4 linked regions of the Homo sapiens genome follow. The protein of the gene in region 3 purifies or fractionates together with the protein of the main gene of each other region. This does not show direct contact. Each region holds a gene or a part of one and is shown on either strand. Other genes may lie near its edges.

Region 1 (4,322 bases), on a different chromosome or scaffold from region 3:
GCTTCCCAGAGGAGTGGGACTTGAACTAGGTCATAGGACCCTGCTGTCATATTCCCCGTGGGGGCTTCAGTCTCTAGGGATGAGGTGCTCAGAGCCCATTTGCTCTGCTGCGTGTGGGGCTCTGTGAAAAGAAAGCCTCCATTTGTTTTCATTGCGGATTCCTCAGCCCCCCTCGACAGTGTTCATAGTTTTCCATTCTCCAGTGGACCTCCATGGTGCCCGACAGGTCTGTGGGGCTGTCTGGTCCAGGCACAGGGAAGTAGCACCTCTAGGGAGGGGGAGGATGTGGCCATCTCAGCTCATGTAGGCCATACTTCTGGGAGAAGGTCTGCTCTGGTTGAGTCCCTGGGGTGCCCAGGGTGGCCAAGGTGCCAGGCAGTATCCCATTCAGTCCTGCCCTTGACTGGGTTGCAGAGGGAGGTGGGGCTGGAAGGGAGGTGGACGAGTGATGGCAGCTGGGGTCCAGAGGTAGGTCCTGGCCATTCTCCATTTCACTGTGCTCTGGATGGGAGAGCCTAAAAAATATTCAGGGAAGCTTTTTCTTTTTCCTTCCGTGCTTCCTTGAAAAACAAGTCCAGGGAGAAACCCAAATTCCCTGTGGGGGAGGGCTGGGCAGAACAGGAGAAGGGGAAGTGACCTTATAGGGGAGAGAGGCCCAAAAGGTCCTTGTGGCAAAGGACCTGAAACTCGGCCTCCCGCCTTCCTCTGAGGGCTGGGAGGCAGAGGAGCACGGCCCATTTTGTGGCTCAGGAAGCTGAGATGAGATAGGAGCAAGAGCTTTCCCTTGTCTCTTTTTCCTATTACCACAGTAATATATGCTCCTTATAAAACATTCAAATAGGACAAAAATAGACAATGTAGGAAGTGCTAGTTCCCTGCAATCTCACCACAGGGCCCCGGTCCCCTCAGGTAATTGCATTACCGCTGTGGTGTGTGCAGTGTGAGTAGCTGGGGCTGAGGGCCCCTGACCTGTCTGCCCCAGCAAAGGCTGGCTGTGCTTGCTGATCCTAGTTACTCAGGGCTTGGGCGGTTTGGGGCTGGAGTCCATACCCTTCTCTTTTGCCCTACCTCCCAGGACTTTCCTGTGCTAGATAGGGCCTAGCCCAGATTTAGGGAAAGTGACTAGGGCTTGGCCTCTAAATAGGTAAAGGGTCAGGCCCACGGTGGTCACTGGGCTGAGAACGTAGAGGTGTGAGGCTGTTGATGCTGCTGGCTGGTCTTTCTGTCAAACTTCCTCTCCTGCCCCACAGACACCCTCACATACATCCTCCAGTCTGTCTGTCTCAATTAGCCTCTCCTCCCCTCACTTCTGCCCGTGCCTTATGAGAGAGGCACCCGCTCGGGCATTTTCTCTGTCCGCCCTGCCTGTGGCACCATCTGTTCCTACCCGGCCTTCTCAGGGGATTGTCTCTCAGGTTTGGGAGGGAAAACCAAAGTCTAGGCTCAGGCCGCTCAGGCTGCGGAGTAGGTCTCCACGGAGGGGACGGGCCATAGCCCACCAGGATTTCGTCATGATGGGCTCTTCTATAGGGATGTAGAAGAGTCAGAGGTGCCCCAGGAAGCCTTTTTAAAAAAACTTCAACATTAAAAAATAATCAAAATACTACCACCACTACCACCAAGCTTTTGCTGTGACTTAATTCTGGATCTTTGGATGTATAGGGACTTTTCATACAAAGGCTCCCCACACCCCACTCTGTGTCCACCAGAAGCTCAGGGAGCTGGCATTGTTGGGGGCAGAGCTCAGGCGGGAGGTGGATCCTGCATCACTGACTGCGGCTTGGGTAGCTCTGTGTGCGTGTGTGTGTGTGTGTATGTGTGTGTGTGCTGTGCAGTCACCAAGGGACTTTGAGCCCTTTAGTGACCAGCCTGACCACTACCACCGGGCTTTATTCCACCTTCATGCTCGATTGGCTGGGTCTGGAATTCCAGGCTAGTGGAAGGCTTTTCCCTCAGAAATGTGAAGACATTCCTTCATGTGGTGCCCAGTGTTGCTAAGGAAGACTCCAGTGCTGTTCGAATCCTTTCATGCCTGGTGTTCTAAGCCTCATAGTCATATCTGTTGGCATGTGTCTGTCTTAGTTCATTGCGCTGCATACTTGTAGGACTGTTCTAGCATTCATGTTCTTCAGTTCAGAAAAACATTCTTGTATGATTTCCTTCATAGTTTCTTCCTTTTTGTGTTCCCTGCTCTCTTTTTTTTAGTTAATAAAGTCTATTTTTCAGAGCAGTTTTAAGTTTACAGAAAAACGAGTGAAAAGTATAGAGAGTTCCCATCTACTCCACCCACGCCCCCACCGCCATTTCTTCTGTTAACATCTTGCATTAGTGTGGCATGTTTGTTGTATTTGAGAGCCAATATCAACACGTCATTGTTAACTAGAGTCTATACATTATGTTAGGGTTCACTTGCTGTTTTGTGCATTCTGTGGGTGTATAACAATGCATGTCCACCATTACGGTAGCATGCAGGATAGTTTTTCTCTCCTGAGAAGTCCCTGTGCTCTGCCTATTCATCGCTCTGTCCTCTCTTCAATCCCCCAGCAACCACTGATCTTTTCACTGTCTCCATAGTTTTGCCTTTTGCAGAATGTCAAATAGTTTTGTCGTGCAAGCATGAAGCCTTTTCAGATTGTCTTCTTTCACTTATGTATGTAAGATCCATCCGTGTCTGTTCATGGCTTGATAGCCTATTTATTTTTATCATTAAGTAGTATTCCATTGTCTGGATGTACCACAGTTTGCTTATCTTTTCACCTACTGGAGGACACCTTGGCAGCTTCCAAGTTTTGGCAATCATGAACAGAGCTGCTATAAACATTTGTGTGCAGGGTGTTTCTTTGGACATAAGTCTTTACCTCAGTAGGCAAAGTACCAAGAAGTGTGATTGCTCCTTGTGTGATCGGAGTTTGCTTAGTTCTCTAAGAAACTGCCAACCCCTGCATAAGAACATCTCTCCCCAGTAGGGCGGGCCCCAGCCACCCTGTGTGGTGGCCATGTGTGTTGGGGGCTGTCTCTGTGTCTCTCTGGGCACAGTGGGTGTGCACCGGGAAGAACTTAAGCTTTGGAGGGCTGGACACCTGGCTCTGAGTCTCCACGGATGGGTTCCTTTACCACTGAGCCTCACCCTCCTGATCTGTACAATGGGGTAGTACCTCTTACCTCATATGCTTTTTGGGAGGTATGTGCGGGAGTGAGGTAAGAACCCTCATGCTGGTCGTAATGCACCATAGATGCTCAACAGATATGAGCGCTCTTCGTCTTTCCTGGGTCTCTTTCTGCCATTCTTGTCTGTTCCTGCATCTTGTAGAGGTATTCCTGACAGGGCTTGGGGTGAGTCAGTGTGTGAGTGAGGTGTGTGTGTGTGTGTGTGTGTGTGTGTGTGTGTATACATACATGAGTGTATGCACTAGCATTCCTGTGTTCCTGGCCCTGGGCCTCTGGGTGAGCTGTTCTTTCCTGGGCTCACGGTGGCTGGGAGCAGAGCTTTGGCTGGGACTGGCCAGAGGAGATGATGTCAACAGGGAGAAATGTGGGTAGGTCTGTCTGTGCTGGGGCCTGGAGATGGGAGGGCTCTCCCAGGCCCAGCCTCACCCCTCTGGGCCTCAGAGTTTCAGATGTAGGGGAGATGGGGCAGAGGAGAGGTCTCTGAGCACCAGGAGAAGGTCCTGGGGTGGGAGGAGGCATGGTGTGGTAACCGCCGCCCTACCTGGTGGCACCCGAGGAGCTTCCCCACTCAGGATGTGGTTTTCTCCATCATGGAAATGTTTTGGATAGTTTCTCAGCTGCATCTGAAGCCTGGAAGCCCAGGCCGATGGGTCAGAGCAGGAGCCTTTGGGGAGAGGCTATCAGTGGCTCTCAGAGCAAGGAGGGGTCTGGGCAGTGCCTGGTACCGGGCGGGAGCCAGGCTCCCTGGGCCCGTGACTGAGTTCTGCCTGCTCCCCTCTTCTCACAGGTGGTACAAGCTGCACTCCAAGCCAGGCAAGAAGGAGAAGGAACGCGGCGAGATTGAAGTCACCATCCAGTTCACGCGCAACAACCTGAGCGCCAGTATGTTTGACCTGTCCATGAAGGACAAGCCAAGGTCTCCCTTCAGCAAGATCAGGGACAAGATGAAGGGCAAGAAGAAGTATGATCTGGAATCTGCCTCTGCCATCCTCCCAAGCAGCGCCATAGAGGATCCTGACCTGGGCAGCCTGGGCAAGATGGGCAAAGCCAAAGGCTTCTTCCTCCGCAACAAGCTGCGCAAGTCGTCCCTGACCCAGTCCAACACCTCGCTGGGCTCGGACAGCACCCTGTCCTCAGCCAGCGGGAGCTTGGCC
Region 2 (4,322 bases), on a different chromosome or scaffold from region 3:
ATAAAGTGTCTGTTGAAGGAAGGAATCCCTAGATGGAGTTTGGCTTTTCCAGCAAAGGATACAATCTTTCCCCTTGAACAGAGTTTTCCCTGTCAGCATCTCTGCCATGATACAGCCCACAGACCAGATGTCCACTGCAGAGGGAGGGAGAGTGTCACCTGGACTGTCTGGGGCCCAGCAGTCAGTCAGCACCGAGTGACCAGATGGCCCCAGGACCGCCCTCTCAGGCATTGACCACTGACCTGTCTGGTTGTAGTGCATCCAGCTGAGGATCACCTCGGGGGCTCGGTACCAGCGGGTCACCACGTAGCCAGTCATCTCGGCGTCTGCATGTCGCGCCAGCCCAAAATCCAGAATCTATGGCACAGGGGATAAATAGAAAAGGAACTTGCTGAGGGGAGGAGGCTCTGGGAGCGGCTTCCAGGGGCTTCCCTGGGGGAGGGCCTATCCCGCCTCTGGGCTGAGCCTGCAGCCCACTCACCTTCAGTTCACAGTCCTCATTCACAGCCAGGTTGCCTGGCTTCAGGTCCTGGGGGGAGGACAGAGAATGCATGCTAGGCTGAGGCAGAGATGGAGCTTGTCCTAGCTCCACCACCACCCAGGGGTGTGACCTCAGCCAGGCCCCTTCCCCTTCTGGGCCTCAGTTTCTTCATGTGTAAAATGAGGGTTGGACTAGGTGTTCTCTCAGGGCCCACCCAGCTCTAAAATGTTCCTGATTCTTGAAGCCTGAAACACTCAGCTCAGGGCTCACTTTGTCTGCAGCAATTCCCCATGAAGTCCCCTGGGACACAGTGACTCTTTTGAGCAGGCCTTCCTGGGCCGTGGCTGGGTGTGAAAACTCCACATTCTGTGCTCCTGGGCAGTGTCCCCTCCCTCCAACTTTCCCACTCCTTGATTGCCAGAGAACCCCATACCCAGGGATGGGACAGGGGCCTCTGAGGACCATGGCAGAGAAAGCACTCACCCTGTGCACGACCCCAGCAGAGTGGATGTACTATGTGGGAGAGAGAGAAGGGTGAGTCCATGGCCCAGCTTCCACACCAGGCACTTCAGGCTGGCCGACCTGTAACAGTGCGCTCCCTCCAGCCTCCCCAAACCTCAGGTCTAGACAGCAAGGCGTCCCCTCTGCCAGCCTCCAAGTCCCCACCCACCTTAAGGCCTTTGAGCATCTGATACACCAGGTACTGGATCTTCTCCTCACTGAACTCCATCCCCATGATCTTCTGCAGATCCGTCTGCATGAAGGGCATCACCAGGTAGCTGGAAGGCATGAGGGGTTCTTGGAACAGTGCCGGGTCCCACCCAGCCCCAGGTCAGAGCTCAGAGGAGGGACCTCAGGGCAGAACAGGGGTCATAGAGACACCCTCCAGTGTGCAAAAACTCAACTCCACCTCAGCCAGCCAGATCACCACACGGGCCTCTGGGCTCCTGGCTCCCAGTCTCCCTGTGGCGGGCCGCCCAGCTGGCAGAGCTCGGAGTAAGCGCTGCAGTTGGAGCGCGCTCAGGAAAGCCACATGGAACTGTGTTCCCGCTCTTCAAAGGTACTCTCTCCTTGCCCTCCTCCACACCCCAGGGAAAGCCACAGCTAGGAGTTAGAAACATCTGCCAGTATTTCCTTCGGCTTCTGTCCAAATATTTGATCCCTCAGAGGGTCATGCCCAGCTGAGATGGCTCCACAAACAAACAATATGTCTACCTTTCCAAGAAGGAAACAATACAACAGTTTCCAGGAGGGTGGAAGAGGGAGATGGGGAGGCTCCTGCAGCCTCTTAGGGGATTGCACAACAGGATAAGGCCAGCAAAATGTAACTGTTACAGTAAAAGCAAAGACCAGGACAAAGACAAAAAATAATAAAAATTATAAAATAGGCCAGGGGCATACCTCCAATCCCAGTGCTTTGGGAGATGGAGGCTGGACGATCGCTTGAGGCGAAGAGTTTAAGACCAGCCTGAGCAACATAGGGACCCATCTTTCTTTCTTCCTTTCTTTTTTTCTTTGAGATGGAGTCTTGCTCTGTCGCCCAGGCTAGAGTGCAGTGGCGTGATCTTGGCTCACTGCAACCTCCACCTCCCAGGTTCAAGCGATTTTCCTGCCTCAGCTTCCCTGAGTAGCTACAACTACAGGTGCACGCCAGAACGCCCAGCTAATTTTTGTATTCTTAGTAGAGACGGGGTTTTGCCATGTTGGCCAGGCTGGTCTCGAACTCCTGACCTCAGGTGATCTGCCTGCCTCGGCTTCCCAAAGTGCTGGGATTACAGGCGTGAGCCACCATGCCCGGCCTGGACCCCACCTTTCAGAAAAAAAAAAAAAAATTAGCCAGGTGTGGTGGCATGCACCTTTAGTCTTAGCTACTCAAGAGGCTGAGGTGGGAGGATCACTTGAGGCCGGGAATTCGAGATCAGGATGAGTAACATAGTGAGACCCCATATCTATAAAAATTAAAACAAAACAAAAAGCTGGACATGGTGGCATGCATCTGTAGTCCCACCTACTTGGGGGGCTGAGGCGGGAGGATGGCTTGAGCCTAGGAGTTGGAGGCTGCAGTGAACTGTGTTTGTGCCACTGCACTCCAGTCTGGGCAACCCAGCCCTATCTCTAGAATATAATAAATTTAAAACTTTTTTAAAATGAATGTTACCTTAAACAATTATGTAATAGGTTGTGTTTTTTGTTGTTGTTGTTGTTGTTGTTTTTGAAAGGACATGCTGGAGGCATCTCCAGGAGACTCTGGATTTTGGCAGCCCTCTCCTGCCGGACCACACACCTCCCTTGGGGGCCTCTCCATGCCCAGTCCCCTCCTGTGTCTTTCCCCTCCACTCGGGCACTGGTTCTTTCATCTTGGCAACATGCTTCCTGAAGCCTCTCTGTGCTAGAACCACATTCCCTTGACTTTGCTTCTTCAACTGACCACCCCTTCTCCCTCTCTCACCACCAAACTTCTAGAAAGGGCGGTCCACACTCCTGGATCCCACTGCCTTACCTCCCAGTCCTGAGTTAACCTGGTTTCTGCTTCCCTCCTACTGCCAGACTGCTCAGCTCAAGGTCACCAGTGAACACCCGACAAACACACCATGACTCCCTTTTCTTCTGATCTAACCTTTCACCAAGTCTGAAACTCCCTCTCAATTCTTTGCTGACTCTCCTCTGCCTCCTATCAGGCCCTCTCAGCTTCTTCCATCTGCTCATCCTCTTGGATCTTCTCTTTCATGTTGATATCTGAATCAATACTATCTTACCACATTCTACAATTATCTGTTCCCGGGTGTCAGCTATAACCCATCGGTGATTATTCCAGCACAAATCCACATCCCTAGCCCAGACCTTCGTCTCCTGAGGTTCATATTTATTTGCAACTGTGATTAAACATTGGAATGTTCACAGTTTCTTTAAAAGTAAAGTGTCCAAAATGGAGTTCGTTATCTTTCCCCCAAGATCTGTTCTTCCTCTACCGTGTATTTCAAGCAGGAACCTGCCCATTCCTCCACCTCTGCCACCTCACTCAGCTACTGCACCCCAACAGATGGAACATTGTGTCGGCCCTGCCTCCCAAATGGGGCCTCAAGTCTGCTCTTGGCATCCCATCACCTCTGCTTTAGATCCCTACTTTAGATCACTAACACTGACCTCCAGGCTCTCCCCCTCTGCCTCCGAGCTGCTTCCTACTCCTTTCTTGCTGCTGCCAGTGTGCATCCCCCAAATCCCATCTGAACATATCACCTCCCGGCTCAAAGTCCCCAGGTCTTGAGGCTGCCTGTAGGGTCAGTCCAGATTCAGCTTGACCAAGCCAGCTGCTGGCCTCCACGTGCCACACTGACTTCTCCATCTTGTCCAAATAGTCCAGTCTCATTCAGACACTGCACAGGCAAAGCTATACATTTTGCAGCTAAATATTCTGGTTTTCTGCCATTCTGTCAAACACCCCCATCAGCCAGAGGCAGCCAAGGCTTCTTAATCCTTGCTTCATGCTAGAAAGAGCTCCAAGGTCCAGACTCACATCTGTGTCCCCAGGAAAGGTGAGTTGGTGCTAACCCTGTGAGGACTGGCAGATGTGTCTTCATGGTGTTAAAGCTGGGTAAAAAGCAAAGCAGCTGTGCAGACTGCCCCCTGCCAGGCAAGCACCCCACAAAGTCCTTCCTGCCTCTTCCTGCCTGCCTTTGGCTAAAAGCATCTTTCCAGAGAGAATCACACTTGACAGGCAAAGGCACAGGACTGCCAGGGAAGGAGGCTCTCCCCGCCACACCCGGAATAGAAACCCTAGACCCTCCCCCACCTTGCTCCCCAGCGGCATGTAAGGCCTGCAAATGCCCCAGAACCCAGTGCA
Region 3 (5,145 bases):
TGCTTCTTTTGTGCCAGGCATCATTCCAGGTTCTGAGAATGAAACAGAAAACTTTTTTAAAAACTCTCTGTTCTCATGGAAGTGAAATTCTAATGGAGAGAGACAATAAACATGTATGTGTGTGTGCGTACATGTAATATATCAGATGGTGAGATACAGAAAAAAAACAAACCATTGTTCCCCATTTTTGTTCCCCTACTTTTGAGGACAAAAATGACCGGGGAACAATGGTAGAGGAGATTTTTAGACAGGATGGCCAGGGAAAGTCTGATATGATGACATCTGAGCAAAGAATGGAATGATTAAAAAAGTTATACTTTTAAAATATCTTATGTTATTAATATTTAGCAGATATAAGAACTCCTTTATATCAAATTTAAAAATCTGTATCAGGTACAAAGTTTGTGCAATGGAACCAATTAGTTTTCAGGACTATCCCTTATCAGCAAGTTTTATTATTTCTAATGCTTCATTTTGTTAATCAACTCCATGGATTTCCGGAAATGAAAAGATTTCCAAACATGTTTCTTTACTCTTAAAATAACTTGATAGGCATATTTCCAATCGTTTCTGTGTGTTGCACAATAATGAAGATCAAGCGGGATCAGATCTGCCTTATACAAAGACCCTGCCACTATGGTACAGCAGGGATGTGCTTGGCAAAATGACAGGCTCTATTCTAGGACCAATACCTGAAAATGTTCTGGGCTAGACCTGCACTGTCCATTACGACAGTCATTTAGTCATGTGTGTCTGTTGAGTACCAGATATATAACTAGATCAAATTGAGATGTGCTGTAGTATAAAAACACATGCCAGATCTTGAAGACTTAGTACCAAAAAAGTTAAATGTCCCTTTAATTTAATTAACACAATTTGGCTCACATTGTATTTCTATTAGATACCACTGGTCTAGATCATTAGAAAGCACCTTGCCAACACAAACCCTTCATTTAAAATTTAAAATAGGCGGAGCACAGTGACTCATGCCTGTATTCCCAGCACTTTGGGAGGCCAAGGTGGGCGGGGTCCAGGAGCTCAAGGCCAGCTTGGGCAAAAGGGCAAAACGCTGTCTCTACAAAAAAAATATGAAAAAGTAGCCAGGTGTGGTGGCCCACGCCTGTGGTCTCAGCTCCCTGGGAGGCTGAGATGGGAGGATCGCTTGAGCCCAGGAGGCAGAGATTGCAGTGAGCCAAGATCGTGCCACTGCACTCCAGCCTGGGCGACAGAACGAGGCCCTGTCTCAAAAAAAAAAAAAAATTAAATAAAAACCTTCTTGATGGATACCCCATTTAACCTGATGTGATTATGTATTGCATGCTTTTATCAAAATATCTCATGTAACCCATATATATATATATATAAAATCTACAAAAATTAAAAATTAAAAAAATTAAAAAGAAAGTAAAGACAAAAATAAAGACCTTTTATAATCTAGTCAAAAGCAAGAGCAGTACTCTCACTTAAAATTTGTTTCTGAATCTAGGATCCAAGACACTGGAGCAGCTAAACTGACTGAAAACGTACTTCTGAAGTCTTTCCTGTTTGTTTTTTTGGAAGCAAAAACAAATGAAAATTCTCAAAAATTGACTTATCTGAGCCATTTGAATGGGGGCTTGTAAAACTACATATAACCTTAGTAACTACTGGTACTTTTAAAATCCTTCTCTTACATAGTTCTTCATTTTGCAAGAGAAGCCAAGTAACCTTAAATTTTTATATTTTTTGTGTGTGTTTTATAGAGATGGTGTCTTACTATATTGGCCAGGCTGTTCTCGAACTACTGGCCTCAAGCAATCCTCCTGCCTCGGCCTTCCAAAGTGCTGGGATTACAGATGTGAGCCACCGCACCCAGCCAACTTTTATATTCTTTAAAAATGAATAACTCTGCCAGGTATGGGGGCTTACACCTGTGGTCCCAGCACTTTAGGAAGCCAAGGCAGGAGGATCACTTGAGTCCAGGAGTTTGAGAACAGCCTAGGCAACATAGTGAGACCCCATCTCTACAAAAAAAAATTTTTTTTTAATTTAACCAGGTGTAGTGGTGTGCACCTGTTGTTCCAGCTCCTCGGGAAGCTGAGGCCAGAGGACTGCTTGAGCCCAGAAGGTTAAGGCTGCAGTGAACCGTGATCACACCACTACACTCCAGTCTGGGTGACAGAGTGAGACCCTATCTCAAAAAAAGAAAATGAACTCCAAATTCTTCTAATTTTCAAAAAACAAGGGAAGGGGAATCACTTTCTTAAGATTTTGCTTATATTTGTATATTCTCATAAATAAGAAAGCAGATCAGAGAGTGGGTTGATAGAAAGCCAAAATCATTTGTTTTAAGTTGCTACAGTTCCATAATACAATATGAAAGGAAAAACATTTCATCCTGTGTACCTACACACATCTTAAACCCAGCCCAAGGATTAGCAGGGACCTTACCTCTGGTTGTTTGTTATCTGGTTGTTCTTCATAGGAACATTGAAGTCGACTCTAAAAAAGAAAGATGCAAGACCATGATCAACTTACTGTTCCATCAAAGACTAGGAGATGCATTTTTAATGAACCAGTTAAATAAGTCAGAAATTCAAATCTCATCTTAAAAATAATCAGTGGCATTAAAAGTCAAAATAGTGGTTAGTCATGGGGAGGATGGCGGGAGTGGTGACTGGGATAACGACACCAGAGGCTTTGGGGTTCTGGTAATGTTCTATCTCTTAACCTCAGTGACCATACAAATGTGCTCATTTTGTGGTAATTCTTTGAACTTGTGATTTGTGCCCTTTTAGGTATGTATTCATACTTTAAAAAGAATTTTAAAAAAAAAACCTAACTTAAATCACAGGAACTAGCCCTGAAGATCTGGGAAGCTAAAGCTAGTTCCACCTAAAAAGATATCTGTCTGGGCCTGGCACAATAGTATCCGGGTAGCAGCTAGAGGGGTGAGGAATAATAAGGAATGCATCTTGATCCTAATTCCCTTGATACTATTTCTGGGTCCTCGTGAAACTAACATGACTCGAGAAAAAAATTAAAATAAAAATAAAACACACTAAGAGAAAATCATTCTTTTTGGAGAAAGCCTGGGGCCTTAAGACTAGGGGTCCTTCAAGCAATACACACAACATAAGACAGCCTCTTTCAAAAAGCCTGAGAAGAGAGGGTGGGACATGTGCCCCAGCCCACCTGACAAACAGGCAAATTAGAAGGGAAGTAATCAAGACGACACAAGAAAATAATGTACTGCAGTATCTCTTACCCAACAGATTACTATGTTATCATTCTTAAGAACCAATTATTCTGAACTCCTTGGAACCTCAGCCTACTTCAATGTGAATGAAAACAATAATGTATGGCAGCTATTTTTAAGGTTTAAGAGTTGTGCCTGCCATGATTATTTTTAAGTGATTTTTTTCTCATCGGGATGACAGTATCTACCTCGTAGTTACTGAGAGAATTAGTAAGTCAGCAATTTGTAAAGTGCTTAGAAGTGTACCTGACACACAGTAAATGCCATAAAAGTGTTGTTGTTATATGTTTCTCCAAAATGTAATTCTGTGATTTGACAAGTAAATCAACCACTACTAAAAACAGCTAACATCACTTGCAAAGGGACTACAGTGAAGTATGACCTAATCAAGAAGACTGCTGCTATCCTTGATTATAAGCCTCCATCTTTTTCCTCTGCCTTTTTAAATACCCCTTCCTCTCTAAGGCTAAGGCAATTACAAACTCCTACAGACATACTGAGAAGACCACCAATTTCCTATATCCACTAGGCCTGAACTCCAATCTACCTCACTGAAGAACAGCCTTTCCAAAGGTAGGCTGAGGAAAAATAATTCTATAGTAAAACATGTTTTAAAGTCTTCAAAATTAAAGGCAGTAAGCCTCTGATGAAAGAAATACACTCTACTTTGTTTCAGGCCACTTGATTCTCTGTCTTCTTTAAATATCCTGAACAAGGAGCCTGCCAGCCTTAAAGTACATTCCAAAGAAGAGAGAATATCCCATTACCATGGGTCATTTTCCCCCATGCAACCTCCCAGAAGGCCTATGCTCAAAAGGACTAATGGCAAAAGGATGGGCACAAGCCACTTCTTGCAGTGCTACTCTCTACCCCCAACCCTTACAGGGAGGAATATCTTTGGACAGAGACACCTAAGAAACTGTCTCATCTATCCAAGCTGCCATGGTGTCAGCTTACTAATGAATTAGACTTGGTTGATACTCTCTCCTCAATGCCCTCTGGATTACCTCCCCTTATCTCCTACACTCACAACAGCTCTGCTTTTAGCTTCTCCTCAGAGGACTCCAACACAGGAACTGCTCTTGCCTACAGATTCTACTTGTTCCATTTTACATAAAATATGCACAATTTTCTTTTTTTTTTTTTTCGTTTCCTTATAACACCCCTGAGCTTTGCTTCAGGCACAAAGTCAGTTATTACTACATATCCATCAGAACGAAAAATAACTAAAATAGCTGGTAATGAAGCAGAGAAACTGATTACTCAAATACTGCTGGTAGAAATGTGAAATGCTGCAGCCACCTTGGAAAACAGTCTGGGGATACCTCAAAAGGACGTGGCCCAGCAATTCCACTCCTAGGTGTTTACCCATGAAAAATGACAGCGTATGTCCATACCAAGACTTGTATACAAATGTTCACAGCAGCTGTATTTGTAATAGCCCCAAATCAGAAACAACCCTAATATCCTTCAATGATAGTTAAACAAACTATAATACAACCACACCATGGAATACTACTCAGCAATACACAGGTATGAACTTTTGATACATGTGACAATGTGGATAAATTTTGAGGACATTATGCTAAGTGAAAAAAGTTAATCCCAAAAGGTTATATACCATGTGATTCAATCTGTATAGTATTTTTGAAGTGACAAAATTTTAGAAACAGTGGACAGATCAGTAGTTACCAGGAGTCAGGAAGGGGGGTGGTTATTATTATAAAGAGGTAGCATGAAGGAGATCTTGGTGGTGATCTAATAGTTCTGTATCTTGATTGTGGTGGCGGTTACACAAATCTACGCACGTAATAAAATGGCATAGAACCATACACACTTTATACCAATGTCAATTTCCTACTTTTGATATTGTTCTATAATTAGGTAAGATGCATCCATTGGGGGAA
Region 4 (4,322 bases), on a different chromosome or scaffold from region 3:
AGATGGAGTCTCGCTTTACCGCCCAGGCTGGAGTGCAGTGGCACTATCTCAGCTCACTGCAAGCTCCACCTCCTGGGTTCACGCCATTCTCCTGCCTCAGCCTCCCCAGTAGCTGGGACTACAGGCGCTCACCACCACGCGCAGCTAATTTTTTGTATTTTTAGTAGAGACGGGGTTTCACCGTGTTAGCCAGGATGATCTCGATCTCCTGACCTCGTGATCCGCCCGCCTTAGCCTCCCAAAGTGCTGGGATTACAGGCGTGAGCCACCGCGCCTGGCCAAAAAAAGCCATGCTTTTTCATCCTTCCAGATCGTAACCCAGGTGTTAAGTTTACATGGAATGCCTATGCCCCCTCCTCTTCCTAGACGTAGATATCTCCTCTCCCCTAGGAAGTCTTCCTTAACTCATCCTCAGGGAGTTATCCACCCTTCTTCCAGCACAGGGCACGGCACTAATGGTGAGCTCTTCTCACATCTTCTGCTGAGACTTACTTATTACTGTAACCCCAGGTGCTCAACAGAAAAGTCAGCACCTTTTCTAAATGAATAAAGGGAGCAGGAGGGTTACAGGTGCATACCCTGGGGTACACACCATGTGAGACTGCCTTCCTTTTTCCAGAGTTAAACTCCTGTAGCTACAGCTAAGCTGCTGTAGCAGAAGAGGCTAAGATCCCATGTCAAGCTCCTCAGCTTGGCATGCAAATGAGTGTTCCTATCCTGCTCTGCTGCTGTGACTTACAATAAGTTACTAACACCATCCTGCTCAACCCCCTGATTCCCCAGATGAGGCTCTGGCAAGGCTCACTCAAAGGCATAAGGCCAGTGCATCAGGTACAGGTCCAGATACTCCAGCTGGAGGTCAGCCAGAGTCTTCCGGAGGGCAGGCTCCACATCCTCGGGGTGGTGCTTGGTGTTCCACAGCTTGGATGTCACAAACAGCTCCTCCCGAGGCACCGCCTAGTGCAGGGGGCAGGGCCCACAGTGAGAAGAGCCATGAGCACGTGGTCTCACCCACCCTCAACTCTGGGAGAGGAACTGGAAGGAAGCTGATGCCAGATTCCCTCCAGCTGGGCCCCAGCCCTAGCTTCAGCTTCTAAGTTCTCTTATCCCACCTCTATTTACAACCCCAGTCCTTACCTTGCCTGGTCCCACGTCCTCCTTCAGGGCCTCCCCAATCTCAGGCTCATTGCCGTAGATAGCAGCACAATCAATGTGGCGGTAGCCTACGCTAAGGGCATACTTAACAGCTGCTTTTACCTGCCAGGTGAGAGAAGCAGAGGTTTCAGCTATGTTGGTTTCAGCCTTCTACTGTCACCACCCCAAGGTCAATGCTGGGGGAAGGGGGCTCAGAAATATAACAGGCACATCTATGCAGTGGAGGTGAAAAGATGGAAGATGAACTGGGCGCGGTGGCTCACGCCTGTAATCCCAGCACTTTGGGAGGCTGAGGTGGGCAGATCCCCTGAGGTCAGGAGTTCGAGACCAGCCTGGCCAGCTGGAGGTCAGCCTGGCCAACATGGTGAAACCCCATCTCTGCTAAAAATACAAAATTAGCCAGGTGTGGTGGCAGGTGCCTGTAATCCCAGCTACTCAGGAGGCTGAGGCAGGAGAATCACTTGAACCCAGGAGGCAGAGGTTGCAGTGAGCTGAGATTGTGCCACTGCACTTCAGCCTCGGCAACAAGAGCGAAACTCCATCTCAAAACAAAGAAAGAAAAAAAAAAAGATGGAAGATGGTTTCAGTCTAAGGGACCAGAAGCCTCTTCAGAGGCTCCAAACCCTTTGCTCTGCTCCCACCCCAACCAGTCTCTAAGATGCCTTCCTACCCAAGCCATCTCAGCAAGGTCTAGCAAAAACTAACAATATTTTCCCGGCATCTACCATAAAGAGGGCTTCAGTAAATATTTTTTCAGGCTGAGCACAGTGGCTCACGCCTGTAATCCTAGGACTCTGGGAGGCTGACATGGGAGCATTGCTTGAAGGCAGAAGTTCAAGACCAGCCTAGTCAACATAGTGAGACCCCCACCTCTTTAAAAAAAAAAAAAAAATTAAGGCCAGGCGTGGTGGCTCACGCCTATAATCCCAGCACTTTGGGAAGAAGAGGCAGGTGAATCACCTGAGGTCAGGGGTTTGAGACCAGCCTGGCCAACATGGTGAAATTCTTTTCTCTACTAAAAATACAAAAATTAGCTGTGCATGGTGGCATATGCCTGTAGTCCCAGCTACTCAGGAGGCTGAGATAGGAGAATCGCTTGAACCCAGGCGGGGGAGGCTGCAGTGAGCTGAGATCATGCCACTGCACTTCATCCTGGGCGAGACAGAGTGAGACTCCGTCTCAAAAAAACACAAAAAAAATAACAACAAAAAATTGAAAACAAATTTTTTTTTTTAAATAAAAGCCAGGCGCGGTGGCTCACACCTGTAATCCCAGCACTTTGGGAGGCCGAGGTGGGTGGATCACCTGAGGTCGGGAGTTTGAGACCAGCCTAACCAACACGGAGAAACCCCGTCTCTACTAAAAATACAAAATTAGCTGGGCGTGGTGGTGCATGCCTATAATCCCGGGTACTTGGGAGGCTGAGGCAGGAGAATCGCTTGAACCTGGGAGGTGGAGGTTACAGTGAGCCAAGATCATGCCATTGCACTCCAGCCTGGGCAACAAGAGTGAAACTCCTTCTCAAAAAAAAAAAAAAAAAAAAAAAAATGGCTGGGTGTGGTGGCTCACGCCTGTAGTCCCAGCACTTTGGGAGGCTGAGGTGGGTGGATCATGAGGTCAGGAGATCGAGACCATCCTGGCTAACACGGTGAAACACCGTCTCTACTAAAAATACAAAAAATTAGCTGGGCGTGGTAGGGGGTGCCTGTAGTCCCAGCTACTCAGGAGGCTGAGGCAGGAGAATGGTGTGAACCTAGGAGGCGGAGCTTGCAGTGAGGCGAGATTGCGCCACTGCACTCCAGCCTGGGCGACAGAGCAAGACTCCATCTCAAAAATAAAATTAAATAAATAAATAAATAAATAAAAATTTAAAAATTTTCAAAAATAAATAATTTTTTTTTTCAATCAGAAGACAGATGGATAAATAGAGAAAAGAAGTATAGACCATGGAAACAAGTTCCAGGTTCTAAGGAGCTGGTTAGAGAAACACAGGAAAAAATTCCTAGGCCAAGGACATACAGGGAGTTGTGTAGACAGACTCTGGGAACTCTGGGAGCACAGGCCAGCAAAAGAGGTTAGAAGGGGGAAAAGATTAAGGAAGGCAGATAAGTAGGCTGAAAGCTGGAGGCAGATAAGTGGGCTAAAAGCTGGACCCAGAACTCCCTAATGAGAGAGAAGAAAACAGGCATCAGATAGAAGGATGGGTCAGTTAATTTTGCTAAAATCCAGACTGGAAACACGGCATCAGCAGCAGAAACAAGGGTACCCGGCCCTAGACACAAAGCACCCAAAGCTCTTGTTGTGGGTGCCTGACATAGTATTCAAGATCCCCACCCGGGTGCCGACGTACTTCCCCTAACATCTGACCCCTGCTGTTCCATGCCCCGCCTTGGCCTTGTCTGTGGCCCCCAACCCTCTGCCTTGACCTAGCTCCTGGACTTCTCCGAGGCTGTGAGAAGTGCCTGCCTAAAGCACAGGGACCCTGGCTCCAGGCTCCTTGGCAGCTATAGGAAAGAAAGCAAAAGGGAAAAGAGACACAGGTCATCCAAGCACACCACAAACATCAGTCTAAATCCCAGATAGAAGAATCTGTTCTCTCTGCTGGGGCTTCTCTGAAACTTAATCCCCAAACTTCTCTTCACTCTGACTCAAGATTTCCAAGGAAGAAGGAAGAAGCCCTGGGGAAATGCCCCATTCCAGGCAGGAGCCAAATCTCATAGCTACGTCCACCCTGAGAGAGCAGGTCCATATTCCCAGACTCCCCTCAGCTGGGATGGTCTACACCAGGGGTCAGTCAATTATCAACTTTAACAGTTCTTGAGTTAAGAACTACATTTATATTTTTAAGTGGTTACTTATTTATTTTATTATTATTTTTCTTGGGACGCAGTTTTGCTCTTGTTGCCCAGGCTGGAGTGCAATGGCACGATCTCGGCTCACTGCAACCTCCGCCTCCCGGATTCAAGTGATTCTCCTGCCTCAGACTCCTGAGTAGCTGGGATTACAGGCATGCACCACCACGCCTGGCTAATTTTGCATTTTTAGTAGAGATGAGGTTTCTCCGTGTTGGTCAGGCTGGTCTCGAACTCCCAACCTCAGGTGATCCGCCTGCCTCAGCCTCCCAAAGTGCTGGGATTACAGGCATGAGCCACCACACCCAGCTTAAG

The links. The genes of interacting proteins can lie anywhere in the genome.
Region 1: the proteins of PGK1 (region 3) and RAB11FIP5 fractionate together in Homo sapiens (co-fractionation; one large-scale study listed by BioGRID). This does not show direct contact.
Region 2: the proteins of PGK1 (region 3) and MAPK13 purify together in Homo sapiens (co-immunoprecipitation; one large-scale study listed by IntAct). This does not show direct contact.
Region 4: the proteins of PGK1 (region 3) and AKR1A1 fractionate together in Homo sapiens (co-fractionation; one large-scale study listed by BioGRID). This does not show direct contact.

Annotation. Positions count from the first base shown.
Region 1 is NC_000002.12:73,088,949-73,093,270, reverse strand, and holds part of RAB11FIP5 (rab11 family-interacting protein 5), read left to right. Parts: intron 1-3,955; coding exon 3,956-4,322. UniProt on the Homo sapiens protein: Rab effector involved in protein trafficking from apical recycling endosomes to the apical plasma membrane. Involved in insulin granule exocytosis. May regulate V-ATPase intracellular transport in response to extracellular acidosis.
Region 2 is NC_000006.12:36,132,691-36,137,012, reverse strand, and holds part of MAPK13 (mitogen-activated protein kinase 13), read right to left. Parts: intron 1,261-4,322; coding exon 1,152-1,260; intron 995-1,151; coding exon 965-994; intron 530-964; coding exon 482-529; intron 358-481; coding exon 243-357; intron 135-242; coding exon 63-134; intron 1-62. UniProt on the Homo sapiens protein: Serine/threonine kinase which acts as an essential component of the MAP kinase signal transduction pathway.
Region 3 is NC_000023.11:78,107,203-78,112,347, reverse strand, and holds part of PGK1 (phosphoglycerate kinase 1), read right to left. Parts: intron 2,482-5,145; coding exon 2,431-2,481; intron 1-2,430. UniProt on the Homo sapiens protein: Catalyzes one of the two ATP producing reactions in the glycolytic pathway via the reversible conversion of 1,3-diphosphoglycerate to 3-phosphoglycerate.
Region 4 is NC_000001.11:45,563,504-45,567,825, reverse strand, and holds part of AKR1A1 (aldo-keto reductase family 1 member A1), read right to left. Parts: intron 1,258-4,322; coding exon 1,138-1,257; intron 958-1,137; coding exon 806-957; intron 1-805. UniProt on the Homo sapiens protein: Catalyzes the NADPH-dependent reduction of a wide variety of carbonyl-containing compounds to their corresponding alcohols.